Linked DNA regions of Homo sapiens. The protein of the gene in region 2 interacts with the protein of the main gene of each other region in a biochemical or structural test. Each region holds a gene or a part of one and is shown on either strand. Other genes may lie near its edges. The genes, in order: BTRC and LPIN1.

Region 1 (3,818 bases), on a different chromosome or scaffold from region 2:
GTGCAATGGCACGATCTCAACTCACTGCAACCTCCGCTTCCCAGGTTCAGGCAATTCTCCTGTCTCAGCCTCCTAAGTAGCTGGGATTACAGGCACCTGCCATCATCCCTGACTAATTTTTGTATTTTTGTAGACGGGGTTTCACCATGTTGGCCAGGCTATTCTTGAACTCCTGACCTCAGGTGATCCGACCGCCTCGGCCTCCCAAAGTGCTGGGATTATAGGCATTAGCTACCGCGTCTGGCCTCTAGAGATGGGATCTTGCTTGCTCTGTTGCCAGGTTGGCCTTGAACTCAGGCTAGGGTTAAGTGATCTTTGTGCCTCGGCCTCTCCAGTAGCTGGGACTACAGGTGCGTGCCACCACTCGCAGCCTAAAATACTTTTTAAATCTCACCTACTTTCTAGCAGTATTTTATTTTATTTGGGCGCAGCTCTGCCATCAGTAGGCTGAGCTCCCTGCAGCCTCAAACTCCTGGGCTGAAGCAATGCCTCTGCCTCAGCCTCCTGAGTAGCTGGGACTACAGGTTTGTGCCACCACACCTGGCTATATTTTTATTTTTTTGTAGAGATGGGGTCTTGCTGTGTTGCCCAGGCTGGTCTGGAACTCCTGGCCTCAAGTTATTCTCCTGCATCAGCCTTCCAAATTGCTGGGATTACAGGCTTGAGCCACCATGCCCAGCTTTAGCAATTTTTTTTTTTTGAGACGGAGTCTCGCTCTATTGCCCAAGCTGGAGTGCAGTGGTGCGATCTCAGCTCACTGCAACCTCAGCTTCCTGGGTTCAAACAGTTCTCCTGCCTCAGCCTCCCAAATAGCTGGGATTACAGGCACGTGTCACCACACCTGGCTAATTTTTTGTATTTTTAGTAGAGATGGGGTTTCACCGTGTTAGCCAGGATGGTCTCGATCTCCTGACCTTGTGATCCAACCGCCTCAGCCTCCCTAAGTGCTGGGATTACAGGCATGTGCCACCGCACCTGGCCAGCAATATTTTAATATAGCACAGAAGTCCTTTCTAAATGTGTATAGTGAGAATCCATTGAGGATGAAATAGAAAATATTTACCAAAGTTTAACAACTTAGTCAATAAAAATAAAACTTTCTCTTTCCGTAATAAGTCAATCTCAGCATTCTAAAATAGGCAATGGAGGGGGGAAGAAATCTCTATGGGAAGGGTCCACTGGATCTTAACAGTTTCAACTAGTGTTCCACAATATTTCTGCTGTACTTGGGGAGAATTTCTGGATAATTAGAATAGTCTGAGGCTTATTCCTTTTAGTTTCCCATAGCCTGATTGAGATAGAGCTATAAGACCAGCTATAACATTGTACAGAAGACTCAGAGATAAACAAGTGAAAAAGATAACTGAGATTAATGTTGAACTAAGAATATGATTGTTCTCTGAGGCACTACCTGCTAGTTCCTGGATTACCTTTATATGTGGCCAAGGTGGGGATTGGGAAGCAAGGGAGCAAAAGCCCTAGAGCTAAGGGAGAGAGAATTTCTGCCTGCCTAAGATGAACCTTCTGAGTTGGATATTTTTTTTTCTTCCCCCTTGAGACGGAGTCTCACTCTGTCGCCAGACTGGAGTGCAGTGGCATGATCTCAGCTCACTGCAACCCCCGACTCCCTGGTTCAAATGATTTTCCTGCCTCAGCCTCCCGAGTAGCTGGGATTACAGGCACGTACCACCACACCCAGCTCATTTTTGTGTTTTTAGTAGGGATGGGGTTTCACCATGTTGGCCAGGACAGTCTCGATCTCCTCCTTGTGATTCGCCCGCCTTGGCCTCCCAAAGTGCTGGGATTACAGCTGTGAGCCACCGTGCCCGGCCTTGAGTTGGAATTTCTTTCTAAAGTCTTGCTCCTTTCTGTAGTTTGGCTTTCCTTTCAGGGTATCTGATTTTGCCTTCCTGCTCCTAGGCTTGTGACCTGACCTGATGCTGTCAATTACAGGAGAATGCAGAGGTGCAAGAAATTTTTTTTTTTTTGAGATGGAGTTTCGCTCTTGTTGCCCAGGTTGGGGTGCAATGGCACAATCTCGGCTCACAGCAACCTCCGCCTCCCGGGTTCAAGCTATTCTCCTGCCTCAGCCTCCCGAGTAGCTGGGATTACAGGCATGCGGCACCACACCCAGCTAATTTTGTATTTTTAGTAGAGACGGAGTTTTTCCATGTTGGTCAGGCTGGTCTTGAACTCCCGACCTTAGGTGATCCGCCCGCCTCTGCCTCCCAAAGTGCTGGGATTACAGGTGTGAGCCACCACGCCCGGCCAGAAGAAATTTTTTGTGTTTTGTTAATACAGTCAGCCACGAATAGCTAACAGCTAACAGCTGGTCCCTCATATTTGTGGGTTCCATATCTGCTAATTCAACCATTGATTGAAAATATTCAGAAAAAGAGACCACAATAAAAAATAACAATATAACAATAAAAGTGGGAATTAAAAACAATACGTATAACAACTACTTACATAACATTTACATTGCATTATTATATGTAATCTAGAGATGATTTGAAATATATGGGAGGATGTGTGTAGGTTATGTGCCGTTTAAGGCACTATAAGAGACTTTTGAGTATCTGTGGATTTTGGTATCCGATGGGAGGATCCTGGAACCAGTTCCCTGCAGCTATGGAGGTTTGACTATAATTATTTAGCATGTACTATTTGCTGTTCTAAATATACTGTTCTAAGCTCTTTATATATATTATTTCATTTAATCCTCCCAGTAATCCTGTGAGATAGATTCAGTATTATTATTATCCCCATTTCTCATTTAAGGAAAATTATTCCAGAGAGGTTAAGTAACTTGCTCAAAGTCATGCTAGCAGGTATCCTGAGATTAAATCCAGGCAGTCTGACTTGAGAGCCTTACTTACGTGCAGTATACTTCCTCTTTGAAGAGCAGGAAAACTGTGGGATATGGTGGCATGTTTCCTTAATATCTGTTAAGGCACACTTTGGTAAATGCTAAAATAGAAGCACAAAGTGCTATAGAATTTAAGGGAGGGGAAGTTCGTTTTTGTTTTTGTTTTTGTTTTTTCTTTTTTTTGAGATGGAGTCTTACTCTGTCACCCAGGCTGGAGTGCAGTAGCGCAATCTCAGCTCACTGCCACCTCCACCTCCCGGGTTCAAGTGATTCTCCTGCCTCAGCCTCCCGAGTAGCTGGGACTACAGGTGTGCACCACCACGCCCGGCTAAGTTTTGTATTTTTTAGTAGTGCTGGGATTACAGGTGTGAGCCACTGTGCCTGGCCGGGAAGTTCGTTTTAACTGAAGAGCTCTTTAGCAGCTTTGTAGAAGAAAGCTTCATATTAGATCTTGATGAATAGATAGATTTTGACAGATATCTCTCTGAGGTAGGCAGTCAAGCGGTGGCCAGAGTGGAAGAATTACTGTCCAGATTTACATATAGGTTTCCTGATTATTTAAATTACCGATGAAGTGCAGTAAGACTCTACTGTTGTCACAGTATCATTTCAGTTAGCTATTGGCGTTTAGAATCACAAAATACCAGCATCTTACAGTGATAGGTATTTATTCTCTTGAAATTGTGGGTTTGCTGGGTAGTGGATGATCTAAACTTGGCTTACTCAAAGTCAAAAGCCCAAAGTCAAGCAGGGCAGGGAGTAACTTGCACAATACTATAGTGACAGTAATCTACTGCAGTGATCTAGTACAGTTGATTTAGAGAAGAATGGTAAGATGCTTATTATGACAACTATTGTGCTTTCTTCTTTCTGCTCTCTATTGTTGACACTCTCCTGATAGCACTTTTTCATTTTGGTTGCTGAATAATACCTGTTGATTGGATACTCC
Region 2 (3,818 bases):
ACCTCCCGGCTTTAAGGCTTATTTGTCTGAGGTTTGTGGCTGCGGCAGCAGGGCCCCTCCCTGCAGGCTTGACTACAAGGCCGCGGTGCACTGGAACCAAACCCACTCTCACACTCCCTGAGCGGCCAGGCCGAGTTCCATCTGCGCGCCTCCCCCAGACCGACCTCCACACACAGTGCTCCTCCCAAGCAGGCAGAGCTTACGCACAGACACTCGCAAACGAAAGGGAAAAAGAACTGAGCTGCTCCCGCTGTGTGGCCCCAGCCTCTGAAGACATTTCAGATGACTGTCCCAGTTCTGAATGACAAGCATCTACTTGGCTCAGAAATAGCTATACCAAGTTCAGCGCCAGAGAAATGTGAGCTTCCTGGGGGAGGAGATTTACTCTCTCACAGGAACAACCCCGCCTCCAGTCCAGGTGTAAAATGTCAACATCCCCTGGCAATGAGTAAAGTCTGCAGAGCTCCACCCTAGGCCAAGCCATGGGCGAGGTGTGCATTTTAACCCTAGAGCCTCAGTCAATGCAATGACCGCAGAGGCCACCTAGCCAAACCCTCTCAGATGCTGGAGTCCCTCTTTCCATGCGTGCATGGCAAGACCTGCCACTTTCCCATTCCTGGACAGCGTCTCATTGGTTCAAAGTTCTTTTTGATCCTGATATGGTTTGGCTGTGTCCCCACCCAAATCTCATCTTGAATTCCCACGTGTTGTGGGAGGGACTCAGTGGAAGTTAACTGAATCATGGAGGCAGGTCTTTCCCATGCTGTCCCTGTGATAAAGTCGCATGAGATCTGATGGTTTTATAAGGGGGAGTTTCCCTGCACGAGCTCTCTTTCTGCCTGCTGCCATCCATGTAAGACATGACTTGATCCTCCTTGCCTCCTTTGACCATGATTGTGAGGTCTCCCCTTTTTTTTTTAATTTTTTTTTTTTTAGATGGAGTCTCACTCTGTCACCCAGGCTGGAGGGCAGTGGCATGATCTTGGCTCACTGCAACCTCCGTCTCCTGGGTTCAAGTGATTCTTCTGCCTTAGCCTTCCAAGTAGTTGGATTACAGGTGCAAGCTGCCATGCCTGGCTAATTTTTTTTTTTTTTTTTTTTTTTTGGCATTTCTAGTAGAGACAGGGTTTCACCATGTTGGTCAGGCTGGTCTTGAACTCCTGACCTCAGGTGATCCACCCACCTCGGCCTCCCAAAGTGCTGGGATTATAGGCATGAGCCATCGTGCCCAGCCTAAATCCTTTCTCCTGTATAAATTACCCAGCCTTGGGTCCATGTCTTTATTAACAGCATGAAAACAGACTATAACACAGATCCTAAATAGAAACCCAGTAGGTCCTCTCCAGCCTGGGGAATGAGAGGGGAGTGGGAACGAGACATTGTCACAGTCAGCCACTTAGAACAGTGGAGGTGGCAGAAACCGCAAGGAAGGGTTAAGAAAGGAATCAAGTTCCTGCTGTTTTTCTGCCAATCAGGAAGCAGCCTGGCACTGCCTCGCCTTCTGCAGGAGGGAACAGGGCCTTGGCTCCAGCCTCCCCTCTCTCTGCACAAACCTTGAGGACTGCTTGGGTACTGGCATGACTGCAGGGTGAGAGGAGTCTTGTGGGGCAGCCCCAGGACTCCTGTTAGCCTAGAACTGCCCTATTGACACTCAGTTAGAATCCAACTAGTTTAAGGACCATCTTGAAAGTAAAAATCTGCCCTAGAGAGAACTTATCTCTCTATCTAAAACCACAGAAGCTACATGGAGAAAACCAATCCTTAGGAATCTCCTAGAACCAAACTCCCCCAGTCTAACTCCTCCAGATAAAGAGGAACCCCTCGGGCTATCTGGGGCCACTAAGGCCAGAGGCTCTTTTGTTTTTTGAGACAGAGTCTAGCTCTGTCGCCCAGGCTGGAGTGCAATGGCACGATCTGGGCTCACAGCAACCTCTGCCTCCCGAGTTCAAGTGATTCTCCTGTCTCAGCCTCCTGAGTAGCTGGGATTACAGGCATGCACCACCACACCTGGCTAATTTTTCTATTTTTAGGAGAGACGGGGTTTCTCCATGTTGGTCAGGCTGGTCTCGAACTCCTGACCTCAGGTGATCCACCCACCTCAGCCTCCCAAAGTGCTGGGATTACAGGCATGAGCCACCGTGCCTGGCCTGCCAGAGGCTCTTTTCCAGGTCTGCACAGACCAGACCAGAAGAGGTGTAGTCTCTGAAATGGACAAGGCAGGAAGACAAGGGTCGGCCTGGGCTGATGTCACCCAGTGGGCCAACCTCCCAACAACATGGAATGAGGAAATGCTCTCCATCCTAATAAGTTAGGAACCCGAGGGGGACAGGATAAAGTCAAGAGTGATTCTAAGCACACAAGGATGCCTCATTAGAAAGAGTAATCCCATTTAGCCCACCGACTCAGAAAAACTGGGCTTTGACCAAAAATATGAAGGGAATTCTTAACAATTACACAGCAATGTCTCTGGTAAGAAACATTTGGTATGTGAAGAGATATACAGTTCCTCATCTTTAAATATAACTTCACATATTTCAGTTTGGTTATATTTCTCATTCACATTCTAGGCTTTCAAACCTAACTTGGCAAATCTAAACTACTAGTTTTCAAATTCATTCAATTCCATTCTGTAGCAGACTCTAACCACGAGTTTAAATTTTAGACCCAGAAGGGATCTGATTTAATTCCAGTTGTCTAAAAATTATGTTTTGGACAAAATACAAGGAGTTAAAATACATTTTTTCATTATAAGAATTACAGATTAACATATAGGCAGCAAAGGGGAAAAGGTACACCGCAAACTGGGAAGCACCGTTTTAAGATAATAGTACTGATATCATAATCACATAAAATGTGTACAATACTCACGAAGAGATGTTGGTCTTTGCATGTTCCTGTACCAGCTCTCCTTTAGGGTTGACGGTAAATATTCTATTCAAAGACACTCCTACTTGCTTGTATGAATACACATCCTATATTTGGTAAAGGTGATTTAAAGTGTTCATTAGAAAAGAGTTCATTGTAAAAACAAGTCCATGGTATTTCTGATTTGATGAGATATCAAATTTTCATTAACCAGAGCTCTACCTCAAAGTGGTGCAGTGAAAGAATATCCTTTGATGGGAAACTATTCAATTAGTTTTGCTCTCTGGGCCTCAATTCCCTCATCTGTTCAAGGACTGAGTTGAAGAAAAGACAACCTACCACGTCCCCGCAATTCTAACATTCCTTCAGGTTATTCTTTGACCCATATTCCTACTTCATGAAAATCTCTCGTAACTTTCAAAAGTAGGACTTTCTGATGGAGCAGTTAGTACCCAACTACATTCTCTAGAATACTTAGCTTTCCAGTAAATGCGGGCAATACATGCAAAATCTCAAAGCGCTTCTTTCATGATACGAGACAACACTAGACACTTAAAACGTGAGATGCTGAATTCGCCATTATGGTTAGGACTGATTTTGCGGTTCCCTTCTGGTAGAAAGAAACTAATCCGATTAAATGTTCTTGCTTTACTGCTTTAATGAGTAATTTGAAATTTGGAGTTTTAAGTCCCATATCTCAAGCTTTGACCCACCCGCCAACCTTCAAAGAACCCTGGAAGCCATAAGATAATTTGTAATCCCCTTGCCTTTAGATGTGGGCAAGTGGCTCTTCACCAGGCTACTGCTTCTGGGATGAGAATCTGACTCTACATATGGTTCTCGGATAGGGCTTTCAGATGACAGCAACCAGAAAAGGCAGTCATTTCAAGGGTTCTTCTATACCCAATCTACTACTTACAGCTGGTCGGTTTCCAAAAGCAGCATAAAAGGGT

The links.
Region 1: the proteins of LPIN1 (region 2) and BTRC form a complex in vitro, tested with the Homo sapiens proteins (one study listed by BioGRID).

Annotation. Positions count from the first base shown.
Region 1 is NC_000010.11:101,360,425-101,364,242, forward strand, and holds part of BTRC (F-box/WD repeat-containing protein 1A), read left to right. Parts: intron 1-3,818. UniProt on the Homo sapiens protein: Substrate recognition component of a SCF (SKP1-CUL1-F-box protein) E3 ubiquitin-protein ligase complex which mediates the ubiquitination and subsequent proteasomal degradation of target proteins. Recognizes and binds to phosphorylated target proteins.
Region 2 is NC_000002.12:11,819,565-11,823,382, reverse strand, and holds part of LPIN1 (phosphatidate phosphatase LPIN1), read right to left. Parts: coding exon 3,785-3,818; exon of another isoform or gene 3,633-3,784; intron 2,973-3,632; coding exon 2,869-2,972; intron 1-2,868. UniProt on the Homo sapiens protein: Acts as a magnesium-dependent phosphatidate phosphatase enzyme which catalyzes the conversion of phosphatidic acid to diacylglycerol during triglyceride, phosphatidylcholine and phosphatidylethanolamine biosynthesis and therefore controls the metabolism of fatty acids at different levels.